2 linked regions of the Homo sapiens genome follow. The protein of the gene in region 1 interacts with the protein of each later gene in a pairwise test. Each region holds a gene or a part of one and is shown on either strand. Other genes may lie near its edges. The genes, in order: PLPP7 and SMO.

Evidence for each region.
Region 2: the proteins of PLPP7 (region 1) and SMO interact in a two-hybrid assay, tested with the Homo sapiens proteins (one large-scale study listed by BioGRID and IntAct).

What each region holds. Positions count from the first base shown.
Region 1 is NC_000009.12:131,306,624-131,309,975, forward strand, and holds the end of PLPP7 (inactive phospholipid phosphatase 7), read left to right. Parts: intron 1-1,299; coding exon 1,300-1,664; 3' UTR 1,665-2,638; downstream 2,639-3,352. UniProt on the Homo sapiens protein: Plays a role as negative regulator of myoblast differentiation, in part through effects on MTOR signaling. Has no detectable enzymatic activity.
Region 2 is NC_000007.14:129,202,053-129,205,865, forward strand, and holds part of SMO (protein smoothened precursor), read left to right. Parts: intron 1-570; exon of another isoform or gene 571-684; intron 685-1,331; coding exon 1,332-1,537; intron 1,538-3,150; coding exon 3,151-3,360; intron 3,361-3,557; coding exon 3,558-3,730; intron 3,731-3,813. UniProt on the Homo sapiens protein: G protein-coupled receptor which associates with the patched protein (PTCH) to transduce hedgehog protein signaling. Binding of sonic hedgehog (SHH) to its receptor patched prevents inhibition of smoothened (SMO) by patched.

The sequences.
Region 1 (3,352 bases):
CCACATGGGTGGATGCTGGAAACATTATGCTAAGGAAAGGAAGGCAGACACAAAAGGCCACATGCTGTCTGATTCCATTTACATGGAGTGTCTAGAGGAGGCAAATCCTCTAGAGGAAAGCAGATTGGTGGTGTCCCAGGGGCTGGAGAGAAGGGGATGGGGAGTGGCTGCTTCGTGGGTATGGGGCATTCTTTTGGGATGATGAAATGTTTTGAAATTAGAGAGAGGAGGTGGCTGCTGACATTGTGATGTGCTGAATGCCGCTGAAGCGTGCACTCTAAAATGGTTCACTGTACAAGATGTAAATTTTGCTTCAATTTTTGAAAAATGGGAATGGGGCTGGGCACAGTGGCTCACGCCTGTAATGGGTGAACACTTGGGGAGGCTGAGGCGGGCAGGTCACCTGAGGCCAGGAGTTGGAGACCAGCCTGGCCAACATGGCAAAACCCCATCTCTACCAAAAATACAAAAAATTAGCCAAGCATGGTAGTGTGCACCTGTAATCCCAGCTACTCGGGAGGCTGAAGTATGAGAATTCCTTGAACCCAGGAGGTGGAGGTTGCAGTGAGCCAAGATCAGGCCACTGCACTACAGCCTGGGCAATAGAGCAAGACCCTGTATCAAAAAAAAAAAAAAAAGGAAAAAGGGCCGGGCGCAGTGGCTCATACCTGTAATCCCAGCACAATGGGAGGCTGAGGCGGGTGGATCACCTGAGGTCAGGAGTTTGAGACCAGTCTGTCCAACATGGCAAAGCCCCATCTCTACTGAAAGTACAAAAATTAGCTGGACGTGGTGGTGGGTGCCTGTAATCCCAGCTACTCAGGAGGCCGAGGCAGGAGAATCGCTTGAATCCGGGAGGCGGAGGTTCCAGTGAGCCAAGATCTCACCTCTGCACTCCAGCCTGGTTGACAAAGTGAAACTCTGTCTCAAAAAAAAAAAAAAAAAAAAAAAAAAAAAAAAACCCAAAGAAATAAAATGCGTATTATGTCAGGGCATGAGAAAAGCTGTATGAAAAAATTAAACAAGGTGAGGGGAGACAGCGTGGTGGGGGCTTTTTACAAACAGCGTGGTCAGGGAAGGCTTCTCCGCTAAAGGAAGTAGCTACAGGAAGGCAGGATGTGCCGGGCAGGGGAGACAGCAAAGGCAACAGCCTGAGAGGGGACCCTGCCTGGGGGTCAGTGTGGCTGAGTGGCCTGAGTGAGGAGCAGAAAGGGGAGGCGAGGTGGAAATGTGGGGGGCCAGGGCCTGGGCCTGGCTGGTGGCCCTGATGGCCCAGGGGCCTCTGTCTCCCCCCAACAGCCCTGCTCCTGGACATCATGACGGTGGCCGGCGTGCAGAAGCTCATCAAGCGGCGCGGCCCGTACGAGACGAGCCCCAGCCTCCTGGACTACCTCACCATGGACATCTACGCCTTCCCGGCCGGGCACGCCAGCCGCGCCGCCATGGTGTCCAAGTTCTTCCTCAGCCACCTGGTGCTGGCGGTGCCCCTGCGTGTGCTGCTGGTGCTCTGGGCCCTCTGCGTGGGCCTGTCCCGCGTGATGATCGGCCGCCACCACGTCACGGACGTCCTCTCCGGCTTTGTCATCGGCTACCTCCAGTTCCGTCTGGTGGAGCTGGTCTGGATGCCCTCCAGCACCTGCCAGATGCTCATCTCTGCCTGGTGAAGCGCCCGCCGGCCCACACAAGCCTCTGGGGGCAGGGCTGGCCCTAGAGAAGGGGCAGGGGGTGGCGAGGTGGCGGGCGTGGGTGGAACAGAGCGGCCAGGAGTCAGAGCGGCCACCCCCACCTCATCTTCCCCTCCTGGCTGGAGGCTGGCGAACCCAGGCCACCCCTCCCGGAGACAAGCGTGTTTGGCAGTGCCAGGCCTCTTGCCCCTTTGCTTGGACTCCAAGTCTCCTCTCTAGGCAGCCAGGACCCACCCATGGGGACAGCCCTATTTAGCTTCTGCTCTGGGAACAGCAAAAATCAGGATGGTGGGAGGGGCCGAGTCTTGTCTTGTCCTTTCATCATCATGACTGTTGAGTTCTTGGCTGTGCCCATCACGCCACAGCACGACGCCTGCCAAAATGCCCCCAACCTACTGCCTGATGCAGGTGCCATTGCCATTAGCGGTCATCGACAGCTTAGGGCAGCACTTTCCAACGGGTGCCCATGGGACACCAGCCTGCGAGATGCTTTTGGGGGAAAGGGGTTTTGTGGTTCAATAACTTTCGGAAGTGCTGCACACTCTGTCCCCAAGTTGGACATTCACAAAGGCCGTTATTGCCGTAAAGGCTCTGACAAGCCCTATAGAAAAGCTTCTTGCTAAACCTTCTTTAACCCATGTTTTCTAAACTTATTTGACCACAGAACCCTTTTCTTGGGGAACAGCTATTAACCCCCAAGGAATTATTGGTTCCTCAAGTGCGTTTTGGGAGCTGCTGCCAGAGAGCTAAAGGGCCTGGGGTGTGAGCTGACTCTCCTCTGGGGAGGCCGGGTGCACACGCCACAGCCCGAGGAAAGTGCTGGCCACCGCCCGTGGGCATCGATGAGGCTTTGGCCCCCAGGGGCCGGACTCCGTGTGACCTAATAGGTCGTTTCCAAGTCACCCGTTTTGGATGTGCATTTCATGTGACAATACAGATGACATGCAAATGGCCCTCTCCCGTGTGGCTTTTTCCTCATGCAATTCAATTGCTCTGGATGCATTCACCTTATTAACATGGAACGGGCGGAGGGGTGGGGTAATTCTTCGGCCCTAGACAGTGCCATGATGCCAGGGATCGGGGGCTCTGGGCACAGCTGGTCTGCTCCTGGACTTTACCAGGCTGGCCAGTCCCTTTGCCCTGGGGTGGCTGCCTGGTACTCCCTCAGCCCCCAGGCCCTGTGCTGGCTGCTACCTGGGGCCTGGGCAGGGACCGTTTGAGAGGCCCTCACTGTGATGCTGATGGACCAGAGACCCTCTCTCACTTCAGCCTCAGGCCTTCCCAAGCCCTCCGCCCCGACTCCTGGCTAACCTGATCCTCGTCCGCCAGGAAGTAGGCAAGTGACCAGTGAAACACAGCCAAGCCTAAGAGAGCTGCCGCGAGGGATGTGCAGGGCAGTGAGGGCTCAGAGAAAAGGCCCTGGAGCCCAGCCTTGGGGCATCAGCGCATAGGTCCCAGAAGGGGGAAGTCTGAGCCCAGATGGAGGGAATGGGTGGAGGGAGCCAGGAAGGAGGGGAAGAATGTTCTAGGCAGAGGGAGGAAAGGGGTGAGGGCCAGGAGGCAAGAGCCCCCAGGTCCTATCACAGATCGGCAGGAGGCTTGGGGACACCCGGAGCTCCCCGAACCACACTTTGAGTGTGAGCGCTCGTCTGCAGCTCTCAATAGCC
Region 2 (3,813 bases), on another chromosome or scaffold:
TCTGCACCCTGGAATATACTCTGAAGGCTGGGAGCAGTCAGAGGCCTCAGACAAATAATCATAAGAGTTAACATTTCCTGAGCGCTTACTACATGACAGGTACTGTGCCAAGGGCATTTAAAGCATTATATCACTTTTCACAGCAGTTCCATGAGGTAAATCTATCATCCCCATTTTACAGATGAGGCAACTGAGGCTAAAGATAAAGTACTTTGCCCAAGATCATACAGCCAGGAAAGAGTGGAGCCAAGATTTGGACCCAGGCTGGGCAGTTGCCATGCACATGCCCCTTACCTCTCTACTATGTTGCCTTCCCCCGAAAAGAGTGGTTACCTGTCTCTACCACCCCCAGCCTGGAAATGTGACCGGCACCCATGTTGGCTCTCACATCCTCATATTCTCTCCTAATGCAACTTCTTGCTTGGGAAATAGATATTGCTGAAGCAGGGTTGATTCAGGAAGGGCTTCTGTGATGGGCAGGGCGGAGGACTAGGCTGGGGACGGGTGCTGGGAGATTGCCGCCTGTTTCTGTCTTGCTGACAACATTTTTCCCCTCTCCGCACTGGACAGAGCCTCTTCTGTTCCTCTCCATCTGACTTCCTGCTTCCTCCTCTGGCTTTGGAGTGCCTGGCTCCTCTGACTACCTCTTCTTAAGCCCCCATCTCTTCTCTCTCACTCCGCTTGGTAAGAGGAACAAGGGTTCTGGGGTCTGGGCAAAGGGAAACATCTCCTGGCTCTAGCAAATGGGCCCCGTGAGAGTTGGGTGCACCCCTGAAAAGGTAAATCCACCCCGGGGAGCTCTACCAGAGGCATTACCACTCCCTAGCAGGGCATCTGGAAGTGGCAGTTATTTTCTTAAAACTTAAATGATAGTAAGCATACAGAATAGCGCACAGATCATGAGCTTGGTTTCCACAAGGTGAATACACTCATGTAACCAGTATCAGATCAGGAGATAGAATATTCCCAACATCCCATGTAACCAGTACCAGATCAAGAAGTAAAACATTCCCAGCAGCCCAGAGGTTCCTCTCCAGGCTCCCTTCTAGTCACCGTCCCTAGAGTAGAGGGCTGGGGCATTTTTGTTTGTCACAATCACTTCTGGGTTCTACTGGCATTGAGTTGGCAGAGTCTAGTGTCTGCAATGCATGGGACAGTCCTATGGTATAAAGAACTGTCCTGCCCAGATGCACTGTTGAGAAACACTGTACCTGCCAGGTCTGACCAGTGATGGGCTGCAGTGTGGCAAAGGCCTGGAGGACAGGGGTGAAGCTGCGTCTGTGGGTCAGAGTGAGGAGGGGCCTTCACTGCAATGCTGTTGCCACCCCCAGGCCTCCGGAATGCCCCCCGCTGCTGGGCAGTGATCCAGCCCCTGCTGTGTGCCGTATACATGCCCAAGTGTGAGAATGACCGGGTGGAGCTGCCCAGCCGTACCCTCTGCCAGGCCACCCGAGGCCCCTGTGCCATCGTGGAGAGGGAGCGGGGCTGGCCTGACTTCCTGCGCTGCACTCCTGACCGCTTCCCTGAAGGCTGCACGGTGAGTGCTCTGTGAGACAAGGTCCAGGCTCTCTGGGTTGGGCAGGACCGGGTATAGGGCAGGGTCCAGTGGGGAGCAGGGGAGCCCAGAGCTTTGTCTCCTGGAGACCCTGAGCCTACAGCCATGGGGTCAACAGGACACAAACTCAAACTGCAGCTCACTGGCTGGATCCGTCTATTAGGGATTCTCTATTTATTTATCAATGATCACATGTTCAGCAAAATGTTTTGAGCACTGGCTGTTGGGTGTTGTGGTGTTACGGGCATCACGGATGACAGGAGCCTATCAGGAAGTTTCTCATGTATGTTGGGAGTTAAGGCGCGAGCGTGTGAAACAGCTAGAGCCACCAAGACAGGGGACGTGAGCTAGTTCTGGGTGGTGCAGGAGAGGTCTTCAATGAAAATAATAACAGTAATAATGATGGTAATAATACTAATTAGTCCTGTTTACTATATGCCAAATGCCATTATAATAAGCTCATGCCTGTAATCCCAGCACTTTGGGAGGTCGAGGTGGGCAGATCACCTGAAGTCAGGAGTTCCAGACCAGCCTGGCCAACGTGGCAAAACCCTGTCTCTACTAAAAATACAAACATAAGCCTGATGTCATGGTGTGCGCCTGTAGTCCCAGCTACTCGGGAGGCTGAGACACGAGAATCGCTTGAACCCGGGAGGTGGAAGTTGCAGTGAGCTGAGATCGTGCCACTGAACTCCAGCCTGGGCTACAGAGTGAGACTCTGTCTCAAAATAAATAAATAAATAAATAGGCTGGCCAGACACAGTGGCTCATGCCTGTTATCCCCACCACTTTGGAAGGCTGAGGCGGGTGGATCACTTGATGAGGTCAGAAGTTCAAGACCAGCCTGACCAACATGGTGAAACTCCGTCTCTACTAAAAATACAAAAAATTAGCCAGACATGGTGGTGGGCACCTGTATTCTCAGCTACTTGGGAGGCTGAGGCAGTAGAATCGCTTGAACCCGGGAGGTGGAGGTTGCAGTGAGCCAAGATTGTGCCATTGCACTGCAGCCTGGGCGACAGAGCCAGACTCTGTCTCTCTCTTTCTATATATATAATATATGTTTATTCATTTAACCCTTAAACCATACCATAAGGTAAGTACTACCATCTTAGAAATGGGGAAACTGGCCGGGCGCAGTGGCTCACGCCTGTAATCCCAGCACTTTGGGAGGCCGAGGTGGGTGGATCATGAGGTCAGGAGTTCAAGACCAGCCTGGCCAACCTGGTGAAACCCCGTCTAAAATACAAAATTTAGCCGGGTGTGGTGGTGGGCGCCTGTAGTCCCAGCTACTCGGGAGTCTGAGGCAGGAGAATTGCCCGGGAGGCAGAGGTTGCAGTGAGCTGAGATCACGCCACTGCACTCCAGCCTGGGCGACAGAGCGAGACTGTCTAAAAAAAGAAAGAAAAAAAGAAAGAAAGAAGTGGGGAAACTGAGGTACAGAGAGGCCAAATAATTTGCCAAGCCAGCCCTGGGATTCAGGTCCTGGAAGTGTATCTCCAGCCACCCTGCCATGCTACCTAGATACCTTTCCCTAAACAAGAGGCTCGTCCCTGAGCTGCCTTGACACCGTCTTTTCCCATCCCTGGTGCCAGAATGAGGTGCAGAACATCAAGTTCAACAGTTCAGGCCAGTGCGAAGTGCCCTTGGTTCGGACAGACAACCCCAAGAGCTGGTACGAGGACGTGGAGGGCTGCGGCATCCAGTGCCAGAACCCGCTCTTCACAGAGGCTGAGCACCAGGACATGCACAGCTACATCGCGGCCTTCGGGGCCGTCACGGGCCTCTGCACGCTCTTCACCCTGGTCAGCCGCGGGAGGGCAGGCCCGGGGGGCCCTCAGCCTGGAACGTGGGAAGAGAGCCAGAGGGAAGGGGGGCAAAGAGGTCTTGGTGGGGGTCCCCAGGGAAGGGTCATGATCAGAAGGGTCTGGGGCTCAGTTAAGGGTGTCTGTGTCAGCAGAATAACCCTAACCTCACAGAATGGCCCACTTCTCTCTTCTAGGCCACATTCGTGGCTGACTGGCGGAACTCGAATCGCTACCCTGCTGTTATTCTCTTCTACGTCAATGCGTGCTTCTTTGTGGGCAGCATTGGCTGGCTGGCCCAGTTCATGGATGGTGCCCGCCGAGAGATCGTCTGCCGTGCAGATGGCACCATGAGGCTTGGGGAGCCCACGTAGGTGTCTTGGGGACCCAGAGGTGAAGGTACAGGGAGGAAGGCTGAAGTGTGCGTTTACCCCAAAGGGAGCAGGTGCGTGT